Linked DNA regions of Homo sapiens: region 2 is linked to region 1. The links come from fine-mapping of genetic effects on plasma protein levels. A gene starts in region 1. The other region holds a variant in brackets. All regions are shown on one strand. Distances are from middle to middle. Region 1 holds the start of CA10 (carbonic anhydrase 10). Region 2 overlaps CA10 (carbonic anhydrase 10).

The links. PIP is the chance, under the fine-mapping model, that this variant and not a neighbour inherited with it causes the effect. Protein levels are from the aptamer-based SomaScan assay of Sun 2018.
Region 2: its variant is fine-mapped to the plasma level of the CA10 protein (Sun 2018, PIP 0.95).

Annotation. Positions count from the first base shown.
Region 1 is chr17:52,155,262-52,163,596 of GRCh38, reverse strand. It overlaps CA10 (carbonic anhydrase 10), which reads left to right and starts at 4,883. Exons shown (of 9, transcript NM_020178.5): 1 at 4,883-5,871. The coding sequence starts at 5,811. RefSeq lists a silencer at 4,034-4,328.
Region 2 is chr17:52,132,215-52,140,549 of GRCh38, reverse strand. All of the region lies in intron 1 of CA10 (carbonic anhydrase 10), which reads left to right. Among named protein-coding and RNA genes, the nearest start is that of CA10, 22 kb to the left of the region's middle. The variant C/T (reference allele first, on the strand shown) is at 4,179.

The sequences.
Region 1 (8,335 bases):
TACAAAGATTTTCTTTTATTTATTTTGAGTAGTTTTAAAGGCTTGGGTTTTACATTTAGGTTTATAATCCATTTTGAGTTCATCTTTTTTTTATATAGTGTAAGGTATGGATTGTAGTTCATCTTTATTTTTTCTCAAAAATAGACATCGAAATATTGAAAAGGCGATTTGTTAAAAAGACTATTCTTCCTCCAAGGAAATGAGTGTGCACCTTTGTTGAAAATCAACTCAATCAATATATGTCAGACTATTTTTAGACTCTCTCTGTTCTATTGATTTGTCTATATTCTACTACATTGTCTTGTACTACATTGTCTTGATTACTATAGCTTTATAAGCCTTGAAGTTACATAATTTAAATATTCCAGCTTTGTTTATCTTTTTCCAAAGTGTTTTGGCTATTTTAGTTCCCTAGTATTTTTATATGGATTTTAGAAACAGCTTGACAATTTCTATTTAAAAATTTGCTGGGATTTTTATTAGGATTATATTGACTCTATAGATCAGTTTGGGGAAAATTGGTATTTTAACAATATTGAGCTTTCTCATTCATGAACATGGTATATCTTTCCATTTATTTGGGTAATTTTATCTTTTTGGTAGAAGTTAGGGGTAGCTTCATCACTAACTTTTCTTTCCCTCTGGCATCTAAGCAATTAAAAATAGAAACATTTTCTAAATGGGAATGGGACAGTCCTTAAATAGAGCTTGATGTGTTTTGAAGTGGCATTTTCCAATTATTCACCCCAAATTCAAAACTAGAACATCACTTATAAGGATGGTTGGGTCTACAAAGAAGGCTCTAAATATGCTTTCCCAGCCACATGCATGATTGTGACTGGCCCCAGAAAGCTAAGTACTGCAAGAAAGCAGAGACCTTACTAGCTCTGCTCTTTGAGAGTGGCATACAAAATAAATATGCATAGGTACACACACTAAAATTGTGAGCTCACTGTGCCTGAAGGTAGCATTACCAAGAAAATAGAGAAGTGGGAAGAGGTATAGATTTCCTTTGTCTTCTAATACAGTGTGCTTGGCCTCTGATAAATGCACCCTAATGAAAGTCAAACTCTTAAAAGTTTATCATCAGTTGAGTCATCCCTTCTTCTATGGCGTTGAGTGAAAGAGAAGGTACAGGAAGAACCCAAAGGAATTTAATATTATTCTCTCTTGGAAAATGGAAATATAATTCCTTGCTTTCTATAGGACAATTGGTATCTCTCACACTTGGGTGGGCTTGGCCAAGACTCTCTGTTAAATGTGTAAGATACTTACACTTGATTTGTAGTGCAGAAATGTAGAGGAGTAGGAAAGGAACAAAAGATAAAGGCGGGTATGATGTGGAGAGATTCTTTGTAGTTATTTAGATATACATATAAGCACATTAAAATATGAAAACGTCTAAGAATATTTTCTAGCTTCATGGAATTTTTTTCCCACATTTATTTGGTTTGTTTTTTGGGCTAAAAAAACAACAAAAAAGAGAGGCAGAATTTACTTAAATTTAAAGGCTTCTATTTAATGCATTTTTTTTTACTGAGTTATTTTCTGTATTAAGATGGTGAATTTCTCAGAAAAACATATAGCAACCTACTCTAGAAATGTAGTAGCCTAGAAATGACTCAAAAATGTATGGCTCTTTCTTCTAGCAATTGCTAGTATGGAATCAATATGTTGGGGACTATTGTGTTCACTGCTGTATTCCAAGTGCCAGAACCAGAACTGACATCTAGCAGGTGCCAAAATTCTATCATTAGAAACGCTTTTGATTACTTCTGATTCCCAGTGATCTTTTCCTTATCCCAACTAATGTAGTTGGGTTCTAAATTGCATTGTCTACCATTAAATTTTAATACCACCTTTGATTAACTTCCAGCTGTCATATGTGTACTTCTGTTCTCTTTAAGTGCAAAATAACCTCCCCAAGATGATATTTTTCATTTTACAGAGCATATAAGGAAGTGGTGTGACATGACTTCTGAGTTTAGACTTTCCAGCTATGGTCTCTACACTACTGATTTGCAGCTGTGGAGCCTTGGGCAAATAACTACCCTGGTATTGTTTTATTGTCAGTAAAAGGGAAGTGATAATGACATTTATCTCACCATCACATTATGATGATTAAATGAGATAATTTATGTAAGGGATTCAGAATCTTCACACATAGTCTTCACACATAACAATCAATACACATAATACTTCACACACAACAATCAATACACTCAAACTTTTTTTAAACTAACAAATACTGTCATGTGAGTTGCCTTTTTTAAAAACTGAAAGCACTTAGTGGCAGATCACAGATTAAATATTCTTTGGGAATGCTGGAGGTGAGTATGCAGACTGAAAGGGTGGAAATAAAGTATTATTTTACTGGCATTGGCTCTTAAAGCAGAATATAGAGGGATATATGGTCTGCAGATTTTTTTGAAAGCAAGGATAATGCATTTTCAATTACAAAGCCCAAGCATCTTGCCACAGTGTTTGACACATATAAGACACTTAATAATTGCAGAATTCATTAGTAAATGAGTGGGTAGTGACATAAAAATTCAGGCACCATGCTTCTGCTTCCAGAGGAGAGACCTCTTCTGCCAGCCTATCTCCCCACCCAAGCAGGGATGGTAGGTCGCTGTCCACGGTTCTGAACTCTCACCAGGCTGGAATCTGCTCATCTTTGTCAGACTGCTTTTTTTTTTTTCTTTCTCCCTCTCTCCTCAAAAAAAGAAAAAGAAAAAAGAAAAAAGAGAGAAAGAAAGAAAGAAAGAAAGAAAGAAAGAAAGAAAGAAAGAAAGAAAGAAAAAATAATAATAATTCTTCATGCAGTCTACTTTCAAGGCACGGAGACAAATGCCCCCATATATTTCCCAAATGGGCTAATTCTCACTATCCGGAATTCTTTTAATGTTCTGAAGTTTCATGCTTTTCCCTGCTGAGCCTGGAAGCTCTCTACATAAGAATGCTGGATTTATTTCATCTGGGCCTAGATTTTTAATGTGTTGACCACCTAGAGTCCTTGGCCTTTGTTTCACAGAACAGATCTCACGGCCACATCTCCTTCTTTAAGAGTAGGCAGGTCTGTCGGCGGTTCCTTTTTCGAATCCCTAGAGTCGGTGGGACTACGTAGCTCTGGCTCCCGCAGCCGCCCAGCCCAGACAGCTCAGAGAGCTGCTGATCTGCTCTGCGTTCTCTCTTTTTCCTCCCTCTTCTCCCCGCCACTCAGCAAAAAGACCCGCCAGACTCCTGGGCAGTTGGAGTCCCTTCAAGAACCCTGGGAGCACTGTAATGTAACTCCTTTAGCTCCCACTCCGCACCCTCAGATGTCGCACAGCCTGGGTGCTGGGATCAACACGGGAAGATTCACTAGATTGACTCTGTGCGGATGAACGGGCACCCTTTCCTTCCCCTCCTCCATCTCCACTTATCTACCCTTTGTGCAGTTCTTAGACCGAGGTTTATACTGAAATAGCTTCTAAACATCAAATATTAAAAGTGGATAAAAAATCCCCGCGGGGTATGTGTGTGTTTGTGTTTGTTATGTGTGTGTTCATCCGCGCTTGTGCAAAATCTCCTAACGTCACAGTTCCCAATCGGGACAAGCGCGCCGAGAAATCCTGGATCTTCCCAGGGATTCCCTCTACGCTCCCTCCTCTTCTTCAATAACCCCAAAGAGGTAGGTTTGAGCTTTCGCAAACCACCACTGCAGCGATGGAAGCAGACAAATCTGTTGAGATTTTGTCTTTCCCCTTTCGTTCCCAGCCCTCTTAGGCAAGCAGTTCTGAGCACAGGGTTTTCTTCAATTCCCCTGCATCCACACTGCAACCGGGTGCAAGTCTTTCCTAGGTTATAGACAGCCCGCCTCCCCACGAGACCTTCTGCGGACTGGCTGCCCCTGGCCTCGGCCTGGGTGGGTGGGTGGTGCTCGCGCCGCCCCTACTTTCCCCTGGGGCCCTGGAGAGCCGCGCGCTGGGTGTGTGTGTGTGTGCGCGCGCGGGTTTGGTGGGGAAATCTCCTTCAGTGGAAGCTGCTGAGTGTCGTTGGCGGAAAGTATCCTGGAGCCCAGCAAAAGCCTCCAAAGCACTAGAGCTTCCCTAAAGAAAAGCAGAATAAAAGAAAGACAAGAAGGGAAGCCCGTTCCTCTAAAGCCCGGGTTTCCAATAGTCCCGGATCCTCCTGGAGTTGGGCGAAGGCGCAGTTGGCAGCAGCCGCTGCTGGCACCCGGACTTGGAAAGGCGGTGTTCCCCCTTTTCGGGAGGAGGGAGGCAGGGACTTGCAGGCAAGAGTTGCACCTGGTCTAGGAACCTGCAGAGAAAAGAACTCTGGGGTAAGTAGTGTTCTGGCACTGGCACGGAAAGGGGTAAAGGGTGGGGGGCATGAGAGGGACGAAATGGAGAGGGCAGGGAATGAATTATGCAAAAAAATCTCCAATATTTCGCAGCGGAGGGAGAGCACAGCACAGCACTCCCAGGATGAGTCCTGCCTGGGTCTCCCGCGCCGAACCCGCAGCACGAAGTTCTTTTTAAGAAGAGAAACTCGAAAATCCTGGAGGGTAACAGAGGCAGCCAGGGCGGGGCGGAGTGCGGAGGCGGCTGCCAGGGACTGGGGCCGAGGCGGCGGCCAAGGTGGCCTGAAGCTGTGACACCCAGCCTCCTCCTCCTCCTCCTCATGGCCGCGCTCAGCCTCACCTCCCCGCCCGGGCCTCCTGCCTCCGCCCCCGGGTGCCGGGCTGCGGAGCTGACGCTGGGACGCCCGGCGGCGGCGAGGACGCTCACCTGGCCAAGCCTCCTTCTCCTCCTCCCCCTCCCGCCCCCACCTGTCCTCCTCCTCTCTGAGTTGGGAAGCGTAGGGATCCGTAGGCGAGGAAATAACGACCCCTGCAGTTGTATTGCGGAAAATCTCGACAGCGGCGCTAGTTGCGGGCGATGGAAGCCAGGCAACTGGGGGTTCTGGGGAGTTCAGGAAAATAGCAGAGGAGCAGGAAGGGCGCGCGCGACCTGGAGAGTCTGTGTGCCCCCACCGCGCCCCAGTCCCCGGGGCCCAGCCCTTCCCCTCGGCGCCCTGGACGCACTGCCGGAACCCGGCTGAGAGGCTGCAGGCTGCGCGCGGACCTGGGGAGCAGGGAGGGTCGGCGGAGGCTGCCGGCGGCTGGCGGTTTCGGGCAATAATCCCTGCCTCTCTTTCTCTGTGTGTCTGCTGTGTCTGCTCCTTCCCCGCCCCCCGGAAGCAGGAGAAGAACTGCCCCGGAGCGCAGCAGCCACCCTCCGACCATGCCCCGGTGAGGGGGGCGGACTTCGAGGGCAACTTGCCGCGGACTGCCTGGGCTTAGCCAGCGAGCTACGCGCTCCCGGGAGCCCGGAATTGCACGGCGCAGCCCGGCGGGGGGCTATCGTCTATGTCTTCTTGGGGCGCCAGACGAATCGGGGTCTCGTTTTTGCTGGAAGAGCCCAGTGTTGGTGGCTTCAGGTGGCTGCTGCCGCCGCCGCCGCCGCCGCCGCTGCTAGTGCGGTTTCCGCCGCTGGTGCGAAGAGAAGAGACACGCGAGCGGGGAGACCTCCAAGGCAGCGAGGCATCGGACATGTGTCAGCACATCTGGGGCGCACATCCGTCGAGCCCGAGGGGAGATTTGCCGGAACAATTCAAACTGCGATATTGATCTTGGGGGTGACTGTCCCTGGCCGGCTGTCGGGTGGGAGTGCGAGTGTGCACTCGCTCGGAAGTGTGTGCGAGTGTGTATGTGTGTGTGCCGTGTCGGGCTCCCCCCTTCCCCCCGTTTTCCCGTCGAGTGATGCACTTGGAATGAGAATCAGAGGATGGAAATAGTCTGGGAGGTGCTTTTTCTTCTTCAAGCCAATTTCATCGTCTGCATATCAGGTACGGGACGCGCCGAAGTCACTGGCTGATTTGGATTATGTTGTGATGTCTGGGGTGTATGGGGTTTTATTGTATATAGCCGCGGGGCAGAGAGAGGGGTGGCGAGACCCTTTGAGTTCTGCGGGTTTGCCGCCTTCAGAATCAAAAATCTTCTCAGCCCAAGGGTGTGTGAATGTGTGTGTTTTGCGGGGGGGGGTGGTTAGGATCTGTGTGCAGTCCTAGAAGGGTGAAGGAAAAAGTGGTGGGGGATGAGAAAGAAGAGGCAGATGGGTGTTGATTTTCAACTGCTTTCCTGGCTGAGAACTCTGGCGCCGAAATCCGAGCCTTGGCAACAACCACCCCCATCCCCTGGCTTTCAAAGTTCCCAGACTCGGTGGTTCCTGGCTGGCAAAATGGACGCGGGGCCCTGCCCGGGTATCTAACCACTTTCAAGAGACTGCGGGAGGATGCGGGACTGGAGAGTACCAGCAGGGATCAGAGATATGTCCTCCATGCCTTACCCAAACACATCAGGACTGATTGTGATGCTTTGAAACCTGCTGACACACCCTCCTCTACCCCCCCAATTTTCTTGTTAAAGCACTACAGTGTCACAAATACCACTTTCTTTACATCACGGTGTTTTTTAATTCCCAGTAGCAAGGATGTGCTGGCTCAGACCTCTCAGTCTACTTGGGCCTGTCTGTGCTTTTAAGAGCAAACGGGATTTCAGGGTGTTGAGGTGAAAGAGGTTGGGCTTGTGGACACCTGTGCCTGAGTGTGTTAGGACGAGTTCTGGTTTTTGAGCACTGTCTTTGTTGATGCAGGGAATTGGGGTTGGGAGGAAGCTGGGAGGGAAAGGGGAAAGCCCCTGGACCAGCAGTATTCCCCAGTTCAGTGGCTCCTCCCATTGAAGGCACCCACCCCATTTCCCTTCACACCTGCCACTTAAGCACCCAAGGAAAAGCCCATTTGTAGTGCTCCCTTCTGCCTGCATTCTTCTGCAGAAGTGGGGACTCGGCCAACTTCCCATGAAGTCATCAGAAGAGGAGAGCAGGATATTGCCCCTTTGAGCAGCCACATTTAAGCAGCACTGGGGTGGAGAGACATGTTTCCTGCCTCTTCCTTCAGCCCTGTCAATCCCCTCCCTTTAAGCCAGACCTGATTCTGGATAGGAGAAAACAACCCTAGTTCTGCCCTCACCCTGGACTCTGTTCCAAATCCCAGTCTGGCTTCCAATTTTCTCCTCATAGGGAAGGAATGGGACTCTTATCCGAAATCATTCTGTGTGGGGCTTGGCTACCCTATTAAGAAATTTGTCTCTGTGATACATCAGTGAGATGTGTTGTGTACCTGGCAGACAAGAAAATGTGCCCTGGGGTCACCCCAACTCCTCTAGTGGGACTTCTATTATTCCATTCTGCATCTAGGAGTGAAAATTCTCAAGTGACTTGTAAAGGTTTATATCAGTCATATGTCCAGATATGAAGTGGGTGGCATCTCACAAGGCCATATTTTACATCTTTCTCTTCTACATGTCTATTTCAAACTCTCTCTCTTGTTCCAGAATATTTGACTAGTTATAAAATAGCCTTTCCTTACTTCTCCCCAGTGTCATTAATAATTTTCAAATCAGACAAGCCATCTGAGTACCTTTAAGATTTATAAAGGGTTAACATTGATTAAGGCTCTGGATTTCCTCCAGCATCCTCTCTGTCCCCAGCCCTTACCCTGAATTTCGCCAGGCAATCACCGAGGGGAACAGGCTGAGAAAGGGTCTGATCTTAGCCTCCAAAAAAAGCATTAGTGGGATACCTGTCACAGCTATATTTGATTTGGTGTATCAGCAACTAAATTATTCAAATGGAAGCATTAGGAGGGGGATTTCCAACTCAGGAGGAGTGCTATGGAGTACATGGCCTTTCATATGTATTTACTAAATAATCATTATTGCTATGTAATGAGAGGATAAAAGTGTAAGCAAAATTGCTAGCTATTAGCTAAACACAGAAAACTAGGTTAGCGTTCCAAATGCCTAGTTAGGATCTGCATTAATTTGCACTTTATGAAGACATTTAGGCAGGGATGCAACATCATATACTCTTTATTTTACACATCCATAAACTTTAAAAGGCCATTTCTTCTCCATGGTCAGGGTGGCCTCATCCTCCTGTAAGCAGAGCCACTCATTCAGTAATGCCCATGTATGTGAGAATTATTATTAGTAATATGATTATGACTCACAATTGCTACAGTTTGGGAGACTCAGACTCCATTCTTTTTCCATCTGGCAGCCTTAGGATGTATAGGAAATGCAATGCACTAAGGTTGAATATTTGTGGCTTTGAGAGAGTTTAGTGGATCTTTCATTTCTGTCTCCATGATTTGCAGTTTTAATTTACTCATGACTGAGCTCTATTGAAAGGAACATAACCCTGTGATCATAGAATCTACTAAATCTTAAATTAAAAATATTAAAAACAAA
Region 2 (8,335 bases), 23 kb after region 1:
TCAGATAGTTGGGGAAAAAAATCAAAAGAGGAAATAATATATTTCATGACACATGAAAATTATATGAAAACAAATTTTGGTTCATGAATTGTGTTTGATTGAAAACAACCACACTCATTCATTTATGTACTGTCTAGTATCTATTTTCGATGGCTACATTTACACCGTAGGGGCAAAGTTGAGTAGCTGCAACAGAGCCTAAGGCCGGCAAAGCTCAAATTACTTTCTATCTGTCCCTTCCCAGAAAAATGTTTGCTAACCCTTGCTCTAGAAGCATAATACATTAATTAATATAAACTTTTATTGAAGTACATTAAACATAAAATGCACTCATTTTAATTATATGGTTTGATGAGTTTGGGGTAAAAAAGACAGTCCTATAACCACCACCGCAACTAAGATGTGGAACATTTTTATCACTCCCCAAATTTCTGTATGTTTCTTTGTAGTCAGTCCCTCTCCAATCCTTGTGCAGGCAACCACAGATCTGATCTCTGTTAGTGGTAACAACTTTTAAACAATTATTTAGAAAGGATTTCAGATCACTAGAGACCGTGTTGAGAGAAGGTGGTGGTGGGGGTGTTTGAAAACATGAAGTTGATTTTATTCTTTCGTTTGATAATTCCTTAATTCACTCCAAACACCCACTCCAAACAGCCACTTAACTGTTCATAATATTAGAACCTAACAGGCACTGTGCAAAGTGCTGTCCATTTATTATCTCATTTTATCTCTAACCCTATGAGGGACTTCTTATCCATCTCTGATTCTATTGAGAGGAGACAGGCACCCAGGTAACACTGAGGAGCACACAGCTGTTAAGATGTAAGCTAAGATTTGAATGTGGACCTGTCTGAATCCAGAGTCTGAGCTCAGCCACCATATCACATACTTATTCAATCTTCACTACAAGTCTGTTTGGGAGTATATTATCAACATTTTGTAGAAAAAGGAAGCTCAGAGAGGTTAAGTAACTAGTTCAAGTCACCCAGCTACTAACTGCTAGAGTTAGGATTTGAACCAAGCTCTCCAAACTGCAAGCAAAAGACACCGAACAGAGAGGGATGGAAATGCATTATTTCGAAAAAAAAAAAAAAATCACCTTGTCTTACAGATGGATAAAGTAAGAGCCATATGTGAGCAAGTTCTAGATAATGCAGAGGCGAATGAGGCAGTAGGCAAAAAGCAGTTTTAAGCCAGATATAATTTTGCTTTCTAAACTAATGGATATCCAAGACTATTTAATTTAATGTAAACAACTAAAGGCCATAAAGTGCTTTGAAAATCACTGAGGGGTGCATCCATGCTGACCAGAATCAGTAATCAAAATCTCTCTTGCTGTTCCTTCACAAACAGAATTCTATCTGAATTGGTCTGTCATATTGAGAAGAGATGAAGATCAAAGTCTCAGAACAGACCTCCATAGGATATTCTCTTTCTCTCCTCCCCCTACACCGGGTATTATAAAGAACAGCGCAATTTACCAACTCCTAGTTTGAATGATTGCATTCCATTTCTTCAGGGCCTTTTTTACTAAGTACTTGGCACCTAAATGGTGCCCCAAATGATTGTCTGCTGTTCCAATTTTCTAGGAGCACTCCGTCAGCCTCCCTGCAAGCGCTTCTTACAACCTAGCACAGGAGGCTGTGTCCACTGGGTTCCTTAGTTATAAATAATGAAACCTTCAGGACTACTATAAGCAGAAAAAATTTTTTATTAAAGCACTTGAGGTGCTCACAGAGTCTGAGGGTAGGCCAAAAAATAGTAATTGGAAATTGTACTTACAAGGGTATATTATGGCATTGCTCTAAAAAAAGACTCCTGCCACTGCTGTGTAGAAACAGCCAGATCTCATCACTGGTGTGGACTGAGCTCTATACACCATTGGTATCCAGAAAGCTGGACACTGCTGCTACCAACCTCACCAGAAGATGGATTTGATATCAAACCTGCTTGCTCATGCTGTTCACTTTAGAACCATAATCTCAGGCATCTGAATGACTAAGTTCAGTCACATGCCTGCATCCTGTCCAAAGTAAAGTACAGGTTTCTACCTGGGTGGGACTGGATACAAAAGGCAGGAAATACTCCAAATATAGTGAGTTGGCTGAAGAATAGCCTCCCAAAGATGTTTGTGTCCTAATTCTAATGCCAGGAACCTATGAATATGTTTATTTTACATGGTAAAAGGGATTTAGCATTCATGATTAAAGATCTTGAGATTGGGAGATTATCCTAGATTATCTGGGTGGGCCAAATGTAATCACAAAAGTCATTATAAAAGAGGGGCAGAATGATCAGAGTCAGAAAAAGAAGATGTGAGAACAGAAGCTGAGGTTGGATTGATGTGCTTTGAAGAGGAAGGAAGGGAGTTACCAGAAATGCAAAAGATCCCCAGTAGCTGGAAAAGACAAGGAAATTAATTCTTCCCTGGAGCCTCAAGAAAGAACACATGCCTGCTGACACCTTGATTTTAGCCCCTTAAGATTCATTTCAGATTTCTGAGCTCCAGAACTGTAAGATAATACATTTGTGTTGTTTTAAGCTACTAAATGTGTAGTAATTTGTTACAGCAGCAATGGGAAACTGATGCACATAGGATAGGTATTCAGAATGTGATGACAGTCCAGGGAGCATGACAAATGTCCACCACAGCTGTGGTGAAGGAAAGCTAGAAAAATTATTAATATTTCCCGCATCCAGTGCTCTCTACTTTTTGATAGCATTCTAATAGATTCCTAAAGCTAGGTTGGGTAAACAAGCTAAGTAAAATTGCTTGTGATTGTTCAGATTGTTCACCCACTTTATTCACCCCGTGATTTATTCAACAAATGTTCCATTTATTAAATAAATATTTACTGGAGCTGAGTGCCAAGCACTGTGAAAGATATTATAGCTTCTGGAGCTGAGTGCCAAGCACTGTGAAAGATATTATAGCTTCAAAGGAGAATAAGAGAGTAAGACTCAAAGCTGACAGTCAAGAAGTTCATAGATACCAGGCTTATATTTAACTGATTTTCAGTTGTCTCTTCATATCAAATCCTACCCAAATTTATATTGTTTGTTTTGAACAATGGGAGTTAGGATGTCAAGATGATTTCACAACAATTTATGCATAAAAGCATTATGCTGAAATGAATATTTTCACTTGAATATCTAACAGTAGTCAATATTTATTGAGTGATTCCTGTGTGTTACAGATAATAGTAATATTTTATATTATTTATTTCATTTAATTGTCACATCAACCCTGGAGAAATGGATAGTTGTTCTCCCCATTCTGCAGATGAGGAAGCTGAGGCTTAGGAAATATGACCAAATTCATACTGCTAGGTAAGAGAGCTGGGATTTGAATTTCCTGTTATTTGACTTTTGGGTCCATACACTTTTGCCACCCTACCTCCCTGTGTGCCAAGCTCTGGCCTAGGGACTCACAAGTGTGTGTGAAAAAAAAAAAATCCCCACATCCGTAAACTTCAAAATTTAATAAGTATTATAAAATGAGCTATAGAAATACAGAAGAAGAATTTATATAGATTTCCAAGTTGACTAATTTTTACAGGGAAAAAATTCCTCATTTTGATATTAATTACCAGTTCATTTAGTAAAAGATCACATTATTTTACAACTGAGGTATTTTCCAAAGCAACTCCATGTTGCTTTCACTAATCTAGGTGCAAAATTTATTCTCTTAGATTATTTCCATTTCAAAATCGTGTCTCACAAGGAATATACATGAAATATACTCTCTTCTGTCACCTCCTTCCTTCCATCCATAACAGTGTGAATACTTTGGCCAGTGATATTGTTTATGTTAATACGTGTTGTAGCCTCTTGCCAGAAATTATTAGGCTCAGAAAGGGGGGCAGAGGGAACTCTCCAGGACCCTATTTCTAGCTGGATGTCTCCCTTCTGCAAAGCTCATCAAGCACCCACACAAAAAAGCTGAAGCTGGCTGGACTGTGAGCAAGACACACAGATACCACCCCTCACTCCCAGCTTGAGTAGTTAGGGTGCGTAGGATTCCTTGACCGTGAAGCTAGGGGCCATGTCTTACACAAATAGCACACAAGTGTTTTGCTCCTTAAATTCTGGGAGCTGCTGTTGGCTGAATTACCTCTCAGCCGTCCTGTTGACAGATGGTGTAACTTGCTCATTAAATCAGGATCCTCCCCATT[C/T]CGAGGGCCCCAGGCATGTTAGGAGACAGACTTGGTGGTGTTTTCTAATGCTAATGGTCTGCAGCTCCAGAGCGAAGATAAATATTCTACTTTATTGTGCAACCACTAACTTCAGCCTTACTGGGTCTGCTCCCTTCATTTTGACAGGGCACATTTAGAAAAGTGAAATGAAGTGCTTTTAGGCATCCAGTTCCTCCATCCGTCACTTTCTCTTATATTCTGCCAGCCTCGTCTTTTTCTCTGAGACTTGTCTCCACACAGTGCTTTATATCAGTGACATACAGTATCCTGAACTAAAAAGAGACCTTCCTAGTTCAGAGTTCAGGACTTAACTTTGGTTTTAAGCAGTATTATGCAAGGCTTATTTATTTGGAGAGCTTATTGGAGGAAACAATAGCAGCCTATGCAAAGAGGGGACCTGATATAAAGTCAGTGTGGCTCCAGCACAGATAATAAGCATGATTATTAAACAGCCATGTTTAACAACTTGGATGTGTATGCTAAGAGCAATGGGGAAGCCAGGAGAGGGCCTTAGGGTGGGGGTTTCACATGATCGTAGTTATGCTTTAAGAAGACCCCTCCAGCTACAGAGTGGAGAATTGAGCAGTAATGAGAAGCAGAGAGGGAGACAAGTATCAACTGAAGAATGACAAGATTCATAAATTTGGGAAAACAGCTTTATTTCTCATAAAGTGTTGCAGCCTGCAGGGTGCCCATTCCCACAGGCTAGGAAGCATAGCCTCTTGCCAGAAGCTAGAAACAGACACTTCAAGGGAGAGGTAAAGGGAATAGGAACGTGCGCTGAGCAAGGTGGCCAAATATACATATTTAATAAGCTATAGGAGGAGTCATGAATATTCATGAAAGGAGAAACGTGGTCCTGTGCAATTGAACTTCATGCCCATTTGTGGGTCCCATGTACAAAAAAAATGGTAGCATTAGCATGATCCAAGGGTGGAGTTTTGAGCTCTCTGATGTCAAAAGGTGAAGCAGAGGACACAAAAGCCTTTACTGCACATTCTCCATAGACTGGCCAGAACCACTGCATGGTCAGTGGTCTTTTCTCAGGCAAAAAAAGGAGGGGCAGCATCAGGTGGTTTGTTGGTATCAAAAGTGGAGTCTTTCCAAAGAGCTAGTTTCTGTTTATCCCTTAGGGAGGAAAGCCTAACATGGTTAGCGAGGGAGGGATATACTGAGGCATGTCTGACCTCTCATCCTGTCATGGCTGAGAACTCAATTTTTAAGGTTAATCTGGGGTCCCCTTGGCCAATAGAGGGTCCATTCAGTTGGGGGGCTTAGGATTCCATTTTTATTTCTCACAGGCGACCTCAGGAGGGCAGTCAGGAGGCTCTGGTGGCAGTCTGGGTTGGAGATGCAGGTAACCTGTTGAAGGTGATGGCACACATGGAGAGCAATGGCCAGCATCAGGAGCCGTTCAGGATGTGGATTCACAGAGCCTGATGAACTGTGTATGGTGGGGGTGAGGGAGAATGGTGAGTCAGAAGGAGCCCAGGGTTCTGGCTCATGCATGGGGTGGAGGATGGCAGTGACATCCATGGTGCCAGGGCACAGTGGAAGAGGCAGCTGTCATGCATAACCTGAGCTCTGCTTTGAGTCACACAGAGAATTGCAAAATACTGTGAAGGGAAGAGGCAGATGTGCAGTTGTAGGAGGGGAGAGAAAAAGAAATAATAACCTAAGAAAGAGAAGATGATTCTTTCTCCCAGAGAGTATGCCAGGGCATAAGAACAAACTTACTATTATTATTATTTTTAACTAATATTGGCAGAACCACTATTACTAGCTGCTGGTATTGATTGTTTAGTTCATGTTTAAACTTTACAATAGCCTTCAATTCTTACCGAAATCATGTGGGTAGGCATTATTTATCATGCCTATAGAGGTGAACAGACTGAGACTCAGTGATATTAAATAATTTAGTTAAAGACAGAAAGCTTGTGGGTGGATGAGCTAGGCTTTGAACCCAAGTTTGGCACTAGAAAGTACACTCATAACTCTTAAAGAAAACCATCATCTCCCAAGGGACAAATAAATAGGTACAAGGTTACAATAAGTTAAGAATAAAATACTGAGTAACAAAGAAGCTGATGGGAGGTTATTTTAGGATTATTTCTTGAAGAAGTTGAGGTTTAGGATTATTTTCTGGAGAACTTGAAACATTTTGTTTTGAATGGGTCTATATATGCCAAATCTTTGAATGTGAGCACATTAGTTCGAAGTAGGGAAGAAATGAGATTAATAACGTATAGAGTGAAGATGGCACTGGGGGAACAGCTCTTTGAAACATTCTGCTTTACAGCCTTTTATTATGCTACCTTGCCAGTGGATGAAAGCTGCAATGCTTAGCTTGGCTCACATCACCAGCATGATATGCTAAGACACCTTTATAGATCTCACTTCCTGCCTCCCCTCGCATGCACCCTGTACAGTCATAAAGCATCTTCCCTCCTTGGTTCCTTCTTCATTCATTAATCTTCTATTCATTAAGTGACCATTAATTGACCATTAGCTAATATGTGCCAGGAACTTTACTAAGTCCTGGGGATATAAGGATAAATATCCTCAAGAAAATGATGAGTGGCTATAATATCCAGAGTCACAATTCATTACACAATATTTTGAAATATGCTATTACAAACATTGTATCTATTAAAACAGAGGCCAGAAGAGGGTATGGCTTTGTCTAAAGGAGGTGAACTTTGAGCTAGAATTAAGAACAAGTAAAAATTTGTCAAATGCATAGAGCAGTCGGAAAAATGGAAAACAGTGTTCTGTAAATGTTGACATGAGAATTGAGCAGTTTCTGATATGCAACTGTTTTTTTTTTCTTGTTAACACTTTTTGCTTTGCTCTCCCCAAATCCTGAAGCCTCTTCTTCCAGTCTCCTGTTTTCTGTTTCCTTCCACCTCTTCACTGACTTTCCAGATTAAACTCTGCATTGCGGATCTCTGACAGTTTCTCTCCTGCTTTGCTAACCACTTTAAAAAATAGACATTTAAAGGCCTTCTGTGTGTCTCCTGCTATGTTATGGCTCTCCTGCTGTGTGAATTGAAGCTCCCTGCCCAGAGGACGGATGCCCCACCGCTGGGGCGCTGGAGGCTCCAAGGCTTACCTTAGAGGTTTGCACCATGGGCTGTGATGAATGGCAGCTTGGCTTTCGTTCCCCAAGGTCAGTCACCTGTTCCATGCCTGATTTCACCAAAGGGCATGGTACCAGATTGCTTGCTCACCAAGAAGGTGAGGCCCAGACAGGGCAGTGAAGCAGCTCCATGCAACATGGATTAGGTCCAGCCCAACTCCCAGCTTTTCCTTACCTTTGGAGTCATATAATCCTTATCTGCATACTCAGCCTGCCCATGGTCCTCTGCGCTACTCCTGAGAAGAGGTAGCACTGATTTAAGCCCTGTAATTCCACCCCATATATTAGGCTCTGCTCCAAGGTACCCTTGCTGTTGTCTCACTGTGGTCCTGTGCCTCGGTTGAGCCACGAGATGTCACCTGTGTCTGGACCAAGTCCCCAGTTTGTACCCCAGTCCTGATGAGGGCCCTCTCTTCTGTACCTGGTACATGCATTTCTATTGTGTTAACCTATACAAGGACCTTGGAATCTCTAGGCTTAGGGCCCCAAATCCTCCCTAAATTTGTTTCTAGAACTGCCTATAAGCTAACTTCACTAAAACCAAGTGTGCTCAGATGGCCAGAGCCTGAGGAAAGATGCTGAATTCTGCATGTTCACTGTGCCTTCATTCCCTGTTGCTGTGCCCCACATATAAGTCAGAAACCCAGAAGTCAGATATTGGTCTTCATTCTAATTATTCAGAATAATATAGCAGTTAACAGGTACAGCACACCTTTCTCCTTTACTGTGCTTAGTACTTTAGAAGAATTGACTCACATAGCTCACAACAGTTCCATGAGTAGCACTCTGTGGCACTGGGATTCCAGTTTAGGCAGTCCTCTTTCAAAGTCCATTTTCTTAGCCCCCCATGTGCTTTACTGTCTGCCACATCTGGACCATATCCTGTTGTTGTCATGCTCAGTGCCTCTCCAGTCAAACCATCTCTCTTGCAGCGTCTTCCTCTGAGTCTGCCTCTCCATTGCTTCCACAGCTCTTGGGGACAAGCTGTTTTAATTTT